Regions from separate parts of the Homo sapiens genome. Here regions 2, 3 and 4 are each linked to region 1. The links come from fine-mapping of genetic effects on gene expression. A gene starts in region 1. Each other region holds a variant in brackets. All regions are shown on one strand. Distances are from middle to middle.

Region 1 (2,500 bases):
AGACACAAAGTATGGATAATTCTGAAAGTTATATTTTATAAAGAATAATCTATCCATGATTAAGCTACTGCAGAACTGCAGATGAGAAAAGGTGATGGACTGTCCTAGGTAGTGGCAAGGGAAACAGGAGTGAAAGAATTTCAGGAACATTTCAGAGATGGAGCTCAGAGTACTTGATGATTTATTAGAGACTCTTGGAATACAGTATTAGTAGGATTTACTGTGTCAGTTTAGCTATTTATCCATTAACAGTAACAATAGTAGGAAACACATACTGTTTACCATAGGTCAAGCAATGTTGTAAACATTTTACATGGATTAACTCATTTCATTCTCACAACACTATGAAGTATATTTATAACCATCCCCATTTTAGAGATGATAAACTAAGGCTTACATCAGTTAAGTTAGCCAATAAGTATCAAGAATCAGTAAGAGGTTAGATACAAGATTTAGACCCAGATACTGTAATTCCAAAGCTAAAGAGCTCTTAATTGATCAACTAAATAGTTGTAAAGGAAAGTAAACAAAGTCGAAAGCAGGCAGAATGTAGTAATGTCAAGAGCCCGGTTTAATGAAGAGCCACAGTGGGGGAAGAGGATAGCAGTTTGGCTGCTCAAAATCACATGAGGTGTTCATAAAAAATAAATAAATAAATAAAATAAATCTGTATTAAATCCAAATCCCTGCAGATGGGAGATAAGATTTAACTTTTTATTTTCTTTTTTTTTTTTTTTTTTAAAGCCCTGGGTAATTTTGTGGCGGAACCAAGTTTGGGAACCTGTGTAATAAAAGATTTCTAAGGGCTCTTCCTGCTTTAACATTCTAGTTGACATTGTAAATGAAGTTCCCAGAAATCAAAGGAGCGAGGGAGGGATCCTAGCTGCAGGAAAACGGCTATGCATTCAGAGTCCACACCGTTTATGCTCCCATTTTACTAAACGGTCCCTCATAGGGGGAGGGATAGAACAGGCAACGGAAAGAAGGATGTGGTATCCACGATAAGCAGGCTAAAAAAGCAGGCTTTTAAAAAGGCTTTTCTAGCACGATTTGCACAAAGAACCCCTTCTTGACTATATATATTTGTGTTCATCCAACTGGATTTTGAGGTGGATTCCTCAGACCCGTATCTGGCTAATGATGGATTTCAATATATTTTCTCTAAGCACCCCGAAGCGTTGCACGAAACCTCTAGGTTGTGGCCTGCCCGCCCCGAGGCCAGGTGAATCCGGCTCAGCAGCAGAGGTGTCTGCAATTACACCCTCTAATCCCCTACTGTCAGATATGACCCTTTCCGCACATACCTGAGGGCCCTCTGGTAAGATTGATCTCTTCCTCAGTGACCAAATAATCCACTCTTCCGTTCATGTTTTACAGCTCGTCTGGCTTCCTACTTGGGTCAGCTGGAGTGCAGCACAGGTGAAGGTGAATCAATCTCGGCGCTGCGCCCACAGCACAGCGGTTTCGGTTTCAGCAGCCTCGAGACCCGGAAAAGGAAGCCCGAAGGACTCGGAGCACTGGGAATGCTGGGAATCGTGGTTCCTACCGCCAATGGATTGCAGTTTCTCACCGGTTCCCAAAGCCAAGCATGAGGTGAGCAAGGGGCAAGTTACCATTCTAATTTGCCATTGGAAGCAAGTGGGAAGGGGGTGGCTAGTAAAAGTAAGGGACCTAAATAAATTGATATTGTCGAGAAAAAAAATTTTAAAAAAATCTCCTGCCATCCTAGAAAATCTCCACAAATGTAGAAAAGAAAAAAAAGGTGTATTATTCTGTAAGCATCGAACCAGACCGGAATGGGTGTTACAGGCAATCCACTAATGAGATTGCAAAGAGAGACAAAAATCTCACATTTTATGTAGCCAAAGCACACGCATCTTCTCATGTAAGACGAGTTAACATGGTTTGGTATTCAATTTTTGGTAGTTCACCGTTGGAGTGGCCGCCTGTGTTGGTTAATTGCCTTTATCCAAAGGAAAAATAAAACGTTATCTCTGTGACAAACAGGTACTTACGGCTTGGAGCAAGGCGCTTCGGGTAACTCCCGCGAGCCTGGAACATAGGGGCACTGTCTACCTTGATACTTAAATTTCAAGGAGTTGGCTCCCGGGACCTGACGAAAACAATTCCTGGGTTTTATCTGACAAGAGGCTTATTTAGCTTTTAAAAAGATACACACACACACACACACTACACACGGATTATAATTACAATTTGCTCAAGAAAATGTTTTAAGAAAGGGGGGTGGGGGAATGTCTCATTCTTTTGGCAACTGGGAAAATTCAATCTTTTTAATGTTTTAACTCTTACAATAAGGTTAACGCATGGCTTAGGTATAACTTTAGGCCAGTCTTCCTGACTTTTGGAATGAGACATTCCAAACTGAACTTGAATGAAACTTCAGGGGTCAAAAACACAAAAGCCTAAAGAGCCAGGAAGGTGACAACCTTGTGAAGCAACCTGGAGTTAGACCACAGGGATTGGTGGGGATCTTAGAGGA
Region 2 (2,752 bases), 110 kb before region 1:
AGAGGGCATCCCTGTCTTGTGCCAGTTTTCAAAGGGAATGCTTCCAGTTTTTGCCCATTCAGTATGATATTGGCTGTGGGTTTGTCATAAATAGCTCTTATTATTTTGAGATACGTCCCATCAATACCTAGTTTATTGAGAGTTTTTAGCATGAAGGGCTGTTGAATGCTTTTTCTGCATCTATTGAGATAATCATGTGGGGCTTTTTTTTGGTTTTTGTTTTTGAGACAGAGTCTCGCTTTGTTGCCCAGGCTGGAGTGCAGTGGCGCGATCTTGGCTCACTGCAAGCTCCGCCTCCCAGGTTCACGCCATTCTCCTGCCTCAGCCTCCCGAGTAGCTGCAACTACAGGCACCCACCACCACACCCAGCTAATTTTTTGTATTTTTAGTAGAGATGGGGTTTCACCATGTTAGCCAGGATGGTCTCAATCTCCTGACCTCGTGATCTGCCCACCTTGGCCTCCCAAAGTGTTGGGACTACAGGTGTGAGCCACCGCTCCCAGCCCCAATCATGTGGTTTTTGTCTTTGGTTCTGTTTATATAATGGATTACGTTTATTGATTTGCATATGTTAAACCAGCCATGCATCCCAGGGATGAAGCCAACTTGATCATGATGGATAAGCTTTTTGATGTGCTGCTGGATTCAGTTTGCTAGTATTTTATTGAGCATTTTCACTTCAATGTTCATCAGGGATATTGGTCTATAATTCTCTTTTTTTGTTGTGTCTCTGCCAGGCTATGGTATCAGGATGATGCTGGCCTCATAAAATGAGTTAGGGAGAATTCCCTTGTTTTCTATTGATTGGAATAGTTTCAGAAGGAATGGTACCAGCTCCTCTTTGTACCTCTGGTAGAATTCGGCTGTGAATCCATCTGGTCCTGGACTTTTTTTGGTTGGTAGGCTATTAATTATTACCTCAATTTCAGAGCCTGTTATTGATCTATTCAGGGATTCAACTTCTTCCTGGTTTAGTCTTGGGAGGGTGTATGTGTCCAGGAAGGTAGATTTTCTAGTTTATTTGCACAGAGGTGTTTATAGTATTCTCTGATGGTCATTTGTATTTCTGTGGGATTGGTGGTGACATCCCCTTTATCATTTTTTATTGAGTCTATTTGATTCTTCTCTCTTTTCTTCTGTATTAGTCTTGCTAGTGGTCTATCAATTTTGTTGATCTTTTCAAAAAACCAGCTCCTAGATTCATTGATTTTTTGAAGGGTTTTTCATGTCTCTATCTCCTTCAGTTCTGGCTCTGATCTTAGTTATTTCTT[A/G]CCTTCTGCTAGCTTTTGAATGTGTTTGCTCTTGCTTCTCTAGTTCTTTTCATTGTGATTTTAGGGTGTCAATTTTAGATCTTTCCTGCTTTCTCTTGTGGGCATTTAGTGCTATAAATTTCCCTCTACACACTACTTTAAATGTGTCCCAGAGATTCTGGTACGTCATGTCTTTGTTCTCATTGGTTTCAAAGAACATCTTTATTTCTGCTTTCACTTAGTTATTTACTCAATAGCCATTCAGGAGCAGGTTGTTCAGTTTCCATGTAGTTGAGTGGTTTTGAGTGAGTTTCTTAATCCTGAGTTCTAATTTGATTGCACTGTGGTCTGAGAGACAGTTTGTTATAATTTCTGTTCTTTTACATTTGTTGAGGAGCGCTTTACTTCCAACTATGTGGTCAATTTTGGAATAAGTGCCATGTGGTGCGGAGAAGAATGTATATTCTGTTGATTTGGGGTGGAGAGTTCTGTAGAAGTCTATTAGGTCTGCTTGGTGCAGAGCTGAGTTAAAGTCCTGGATATCCTTGTTAACTTTCTGTCTCATTGATCTGTCTAATGTTGACAGTGGAGTGTTAAAGTCTCCTATTATTATTGTGTGGAAGTCTAAGTCTCTTTGTAGGTCTCTAAGGACTTGCTTTATGAAGCTGGGTGCTCCTGTATTGGGTGCATATATATTTAGGATAGTTATCTCTTCTTGTTGAATTGATCCCTTTACCATTATGTAATGGCCTTCTTTGTCTCTTTTGATCTTTGTTGGCTTAAAGTCTGTTTTATCAGAGACTGGGATTGCAACCCCTGCTTTTCTTTTGCTTTCCATTTGCTTGGTAGATCTTCCTCCATCCCTTTATTTTGAGCCTATGTGTGTCTCTGCACATGAGATGGGTCTCCTGAATACAGCACACTGATGATGCGTCTTGACTCATTATCGAATTTGCCAGTCTGTGTCTTTTAATTGGGGGCATTTAGCCCATTTACATTTAAGGTTAATATTGTTATATGTGAATTTGATCCTGTCATTATGATGTTAGCTGGTTATTTTGCTTGTTAGTTGATGCAGTTTCTTCCTAGCATCAATGGTCTTTACAATTTGGCATGTTTTTCCAGTGGCTGGTACCAGTTCTTTTTCATGTTTAGTGTTTCCTTCAGGAGCTCTTGTAAGGCTGGTGGTGACAAAATCCCTCAGCATTTGCTTGTCTGTAAAGGATTTTATTTCTCCTTCACCTATGAAGTTTGGCTGGATATGAAATTCTGGGTTGAAAATTATTTTCTTTAAGAATGTTGAATATTGGCCCCCACTCTCTTCTGGCTTATAGAGTTTCTGCTGAGAGGTCCGCTGTTAGTCTGATGGGCTTCCCTTTGTGGGTAACGCGACCTTTCTCTCTGGCTGCCCTTAACATTTTTTCTGTCATTTCAACCTTGGTGAATCTGACAATTATGTGTCTTGGGGTTGCTCTTCTCAAGGAGTATCTTTATGGCATTCT
Region 3 (2,752 bases), 50 kb before region 1:
CACAGATATGAGAATTTGGCATTAAGTTATACAAAAGGGCAGCCTAATGCAGTGCCTGGTACCATGGGAAGTAGAGACAGTAAGGTGTTATAGTTATGAATGCAGGTTTTGAAGCCAGATTGCCTGGGTTTAAATCACAGCTTTGGCACTTAGTAGCTGTATAACTTGGGCAAGTTACTTAACCTCTCTATGCCTTTTATCTATAAAATGAAGATAACAACAGCAGTTATCTTAAGAGTTGTTTTGAGGCTTAAATAAATATTATACATGCAAAGGCCTTAGAACAAAAGCTGGAATATTGATAAGAGCTCCATAATTGTTAACAGGATATCAATGTCCTGTTCCTTATCTCCTATGTCAAAGCCTCAAACTGATCATTTAGATTTCTTCCTCTTTCCACAATTCTGTCAGAGGTGTTACCCTAAGAATATCTAGTACATAGTAAGCACTTATCAGATATTTGCTGAATGAAGGAAAAAACCCTCATCTGGAAGAAAAAAAAATGAGATATTTAATCAACGGTCTTCAAAATAAGGTGAAAAAAGATTGTAAAGATTCAATGACAAAGTTTTATTAAATACCAATACTGGCTAGGCACAATTAGACACATTATTATCTCATTTGCTGTATCTGGTATCAAACAACAAAGCCTGAAAGATTACCATAGATTTTGATGGCCTCATTAACATAATTAATCCGTAGTGACATTCCCTGGATAATAAATACAGTTTTATGTCCGTGTGTCTTCTGTGTCTTCCAAGTTGCTACAGGGCTCTATTTGATCTGAGAAACTGACTGCTGTTTACATCCAGGTATGCAATGTGACATTAGAATTGAAGCAGAAAGGAAGCAAAACAAAACAGGGTTCATGAGGAAAATAATCTTCTAAGAACTAACATGGCCTGGAGGTAAAATGCAAATATATCCGGTAATAAGAAGCCCAGATTACTGCAGATAAAAGATTAAAATAGGATTCAATTATTCATCTCCATTTGCAAATCTACAAACTAGGAGGAAGGACTAACCCTTTTCCTGGGATTAGTAACTAAATTTAATGATTACAGCAAATATAAAGTTCTTTTGTAAATTATTGTTGGTTAAGGATTGACTTGCATTGACAACACACTTTAGCTCTCGCCCCTTTCATTCTCC[C/G]CCTGCAAGAACAAAGGCAAAATGAACAGTGAGGAAAACCTGGAAACAGGACCGAGTGTTTGCTATCACTTGATTCCTTTGAAGGAGCAATGCTTTCTCATAATATAGGTTTTATAGTATCATCAAGTACATCAGTTAAGCAAATCAAGTGCTTTGTGTTCTGTATATAAATTACATAATACAAGAGTCTGTGGCAGTTAAGAATCTGGTTCTGCACTTTGGGAGGCCGAGATGGGTGGATCACGAGGTCAGGAATTCAAGACCAGCCTGGCCAAGATGCTGAAACCCCGTGTCTACTAAAAATACAAAAATTAGCCAGGCGTTGTGGCACACACCTGTAATCCCAACTACTGGGGAGGCTGAGGCAGGAGAATCGCTTGAACCCGGGCGGCAGAGATTGCAGTGAGCTGAGATCGTGCCACTGCACTCCAGCCTAGGCGACAGAGCAAGACTCCGTCTCAAAAAAAAAAAAAAAAAAAAAAAAAAGAAAAGAAAAGAATCTGGTTCTGATCAGAATCCTTAAAATACTGTCTTCTTTTTTATCACAATTGCCCTTTTGGATGTGAGTGCTGGTCTCAAAAAGATTTGCAGTTAAAAGAGGAACAGCAAAAAAGACTTACACCAAAATAGCAACCAACTCTAAAACTATTACAGGTGAGAGGTAGACAGCTTCATAACTCAATCTTCTACTACCAGGTGATGTTAAAAAAATACTTTAACATCAAAATCACCTACAAATATTCCTCCACTTTCATATGCTGAGCAATTTCAGCTTAGAGTGACTAAGTGTTATTTATCTCTCTATCTTCGGCACCTAGCACATAGTAGGCAGTCATTAGTTATTTGCTGAATGAAGGAAAAAAACCTTCATCTGACCAACGATAAATTTCACTAAAATTGACTATAATAAAATCTGTATGGGCTCCACATGAAAACTACATGAACTTCACTTCCCCACATACCTGACAGCCTATACACTTCCTTATGTTTCATTTCTTTAAATATACTTTAAAAATTGCTTATTTACACAATAAAAACAATGTCCACCATAAAAAAAAAAGTCTCTAGAACTATTGGAATTAGTCTCAGAATAACTCATCTGATTGGATTTGATATGAGATCATTCTCAGATTGTTCTGTGGAATCTCCCAATTCCAATAATGATGCTTGCAATATCCTTTAGCTGTCTATCAGTTCTGGTCTTTATTCAGGCCCAAAGAGAGAAGAAAGAAGTAGACTAAGATAAAATGGGTAGTCTGTGTATTCATGTAGTGAATATATTCAAGACATAAATATGAGACAGAAAGGTCACTTCTGCAACAAACTAAGTCTGATCAGAGTTAAGTTAGCTTCCCTCTCTGAGCCTTTATTTTTCTCATCTCTAAGACAGATTCATCCTAGAAGCTCTCTGGTCCTTTTTAGCTTCAATGTTCTATGATTGGTTCTCATTTAATTGATGCACCAACTGAAACACTCACTAATCATACATTTTGCTGGAGGTTGATCAATCCTTAGCAAATCAGGAAGAAATGAATGTTCCACTTACTTCGTGCAGAAGCTCAGGAAGCTGGGCTCTAAAGGCCCAAGTTTTTGTTGTTGT
Region 4 (2,752 bases), 110 kb before region 1:
CTATAAGTTCCTCCCAAAGTCCAGAAATGAATAAGGACAAGCTTGGAGGTTAGAAGCAAGATGGAGTAAGTTAGGTCATATATTTTTCACTGCCTCAGTTAGAATTTTGTAATGGTGAGTTTCATAACTTTAAATGATGACTATCGTAGTTTTCATAAATAATCTAGGTAAATGAATAAAATAAAATAATTAGGTAAATATAATGGGATAAATACTTGTAGACAAATGTCATAATTTAGAATCTAAAGTTAAATTAAATGATATTTCATTATTTGGGTATTTTCTGATAAAAATATATTGTAGGAAAACATTCTTTCTAAAAAAAAGTGTCCTTTTTAAAAAGGTGAACAATTTTCGTCTAATTAAAAGCTTATTTAAAGGTTATGTATAAAACAAGTTTAAAGGAACCAGGAAATAGGGGAAATGTAAAGAACGGTATGAGATAAAGAGGCATTTTTTGGTAAGAAAGCTTAAAAAGAAATAATTTTACATGAGAAAGCATTGAAGCCATTTTGTAAAAATCATAACTGAGAAAATTATGACAATGAAAGATATCAGACCTAACTGACCCCATCTTGCTTCTAACCTCTAAACTGTCCTTGTTCATTCCTGGGCATAGGCCAAACTAGCTTTGGGAAGGGATTTAGTGTATAGTTTATATAATAGCCCTCCCCAAAAGGCTAAACTGTTCTTATAAAACAAATGAAAGGCCACCAGCCACCAAGTCAAGATGAGAGGGGCTGGAATTCTAAATATTACCCGCCATTATTCCACAGGTCATTAGATTTACAACTTCCCCAATTACTCTTGAAGGTAACGTCACTATTGTGAACCTAAGATCGTCCTTTTGAGATGTCTTTTCAGGTTTTTGCATTTTTAACAACCAGATGGCCCCACCTGGATCTGCCAACCAGTTCTGTGGCTCCCACCCAGGAACTGACTCAGCAGATGAGAACAGCCTGGACTCCCTATGATTTCATCCCCAAGCCAACCAATCAGCACTCCCAATTCACTGTCCCCATCCCCCACCCACCAAATTAATTTTAAAAACACAAATACCAGAGTTGTCAGGGAGACTGATTTGAGTAATAATAACATTCTGGTCTCCTGCACAGCCAGCTCTGCATTAATTACTCTTTATTACAATTGCCCTGTCTTGATAAATTGACTCTGTCTAGGCAGCAGATAAAGCGAACCCCTTGGGCAGTTACAGAATCTTGTACGGTAAATTTAGACCTAGAATAAAATGACTGGTTGTTTAAGAAAGAGGAATGTTCAGGACAAACCAGAAAGTCCAAACATATCATTAATGGTCTGTGTAAGTCACAATAAAAGGTTTTATTAAAAAAAACATTTATATGATCAAGTTATCT[A/G]TAATTAAAGGGAAATTATAATGGTCTTTCTAGAGAATGGGCTTGATGTAAAAAAAAAACACTTGTACACTAAAGAATTGATTAGAACAATAAAATTCCCTAAAGGGATTGATTTACTCTTAATAAATTATAAGAGATTTTAATTTTTTAACCCAAAGTTTAATGTTTAGTGCATCTCACTGTTTCTGGTTTTCTCTCCCCTTTTAAAAGGCATGAAATAATAACAATCTCCTTCAACTCATTTTCAGCTCATATTTTTTTTTCTTCAAGATCTGTTTGTTGTAGCCTGATGCTAACAATACTTTCTTAAAGATGTAAAGGAAATGTTTTCTTACAAAATAATATTATGTACATTGCAGAAGGTCTTTTTCCTTTTGGTAACTGACCTAACAAATTTTACATTTTATTAAAATAATTTCTATATCATTATTATTAAAGTTTTGCTTTGCTTAGGAAAAAACTGAGATTAATTTTTTTTTTTAATTGAGGTTCTTACATCCATGTATCTTTCTGTATGTGATTTAAAAGTACTTGTGACATTAAGTTACAGGGCTTTGACACTTGGGTCTAAAAAGGACACCAAGTCTTGCTAAATCTTTTTTTTTTTGCCCTTTTTAAAATTATTATCCTTTAAGTTCTAGGGTACATGTGCACAACATTCAGGTTTGTTACATATGTATACATGTGCCAAGTTGGTGTGCTGCACCCATTAACTCGTCATTTACATTATTTCTCTTAATGCTATCCTTCCCCCATCCCCTGACTGTACAACAGGCCCCGGTTTGTGGTGTTCCCCACCCTGTGTCCAAGTGTTCTCATTGTTCAGTTCCCACCTATGAGTGAGAACATGCAGTGTTTGGTTTTCTGTCCTTCCAAGAGTTTGCTCAGAATGATGGTTTCCAGCTTCATCTATCTCCCTACAAAGGACATGAACTCATCCTTTTTTATGGCTTCATAGTATTCCATGTTGTATATGTGCCACATTTTCTTAACCCAGTCTATCACTGATGGACATGTGGGTTGGTTCCAAGTATTTGCTATTGTGAATAGTGCCGCAATAAACATACGTGTGCATGTGTCTTTATAGTAGCATGATTTATAATCCTTTGGGTATATACCCAGTAATGGGATGGCTGGGTCAAATAGTATTTCTAGTTCTAGATCCTTGAGGAATTGCCACACTGTCTTCCACAATGGTTGAACTAGTTTACAGTCCCACCAACAGTGTAAAAGTGTTCCTATTTCTCCACATCCTCACCAGAACCTGTTGTTTTCCTGACTTTTTAATGATCACCATTCTAACTGGTGTGAGATGGTATCTCATTGTGGTTTTGATTTGCATTTCTCTGATGGCCAGTGATGATGAGCATTTTTTCATG

Which allele goes with the higher level. Alleles are on the strand shown, and positions count from the first base shown. SD is a standard deviation of normalised expression in the study named. Not every link is listed here.
For the expression in tibial artery of the gene that starts at base 1,495 in region 1, G is the low allele of the variant in region 2 and A is the other (small effect, 0.21 SD a copy in GTEx).
For the expression in thyroid of the gene that starts at base 1,495 in region 1, allele G in region 3 goes with a higher level than allele C (moderate effect, 0.44 SD a copy in GTEx).

Evidence for each region.
Region 2: its variant is fine-mapped to the expression of SYNJ2BP in tibial artery (GTEx, PIP above 0.99). The same link has a PIP of 0.9 or more in fibroblasts and gastroesophageal junction.
Region 3: its variant is fine-mapped to the expression of SYNJ2BP in thyroid (GTEx, PIP 0.96).
Region 4: its variant is fine-mapped to the expression of SYNJ2BP in lung (TOPMed, PIP above 0.99). The same link has a PIP of 0.9 or more in testis and whole blood.

What each region holds. Positions count from the first base shown.
Region 1 is chr14:70,415,596-70,418,095 of GRCh38, forward strand. It overlaps SYNJ2BP (synaptojanin 2 binding protein), which reads right to left and starts at 1,495. Exons shown (of 4, transcript NM_018373.3): 1 at 1,305-1,495. The coding sequence starts at 1,368. It overlaps SYNJ2BP-COX16 (SYNJ2BP-COX16 readthrough), which reads right to left and starts at 1,495. Exons shown (of 5, transcript NM_001202549.2): 1 at 1,305-1,495. The coding sequence starts at 1,368. LOC124903339 (a long non-coding RNA gene) reads left to right here and starts at 1,490. Exons shown (of 2, transcript XR_007064237.1): 1 at 1,490-1,593. RefSeq lists enhancers at 1,271-1,350, 1,282-2,481, 1,461-1,570.
Region 2 is chr14:70,306,809-70,309,560 of GRCh38, forward strand. The region is part of intron 4 of LOC101928046 (a long non-coding RNA gene); the gene reads left to right. Among named protein-coding and RNA genes, the nearest start is that of COX16, 51 kb to the right of the region's middle. The variant A/G (reference allele first, on the strand shown) is at 1,272.
Region 3 is chr14:70,365,950-70,368,701 of GRCh38, forward strand. The region is part of intron 3 of SYNJ2BP-COX16 (SYNJ2BP-COX16 readthrough); the gene reads right to left. SYNJ2BP (synaptojanin 2 binding protein) reads right to left here. Exons shown (of 4, transcript NM_018373.3): 4 at 550-2,752. Among named protein-coding and RNA genes, the nearest start is that of COX16, 7.6 kb to the left of the region's middle. The variant C/G (reference allele first, on the strand shown) is at 1,153.
Region 4 is chr14:70,302,777-70,305,528 of GRCh38, forward strand. All of the region lies in intron 4 of LOC101928046 (a long non-coding RNA gene), which reads left to right. Among named protein-coding and RNA genes, the nearest start is that of COX16, 56 kb to the right of the region's middle. The variant A/G (reference allele first, on the strand shown) is at 1,374.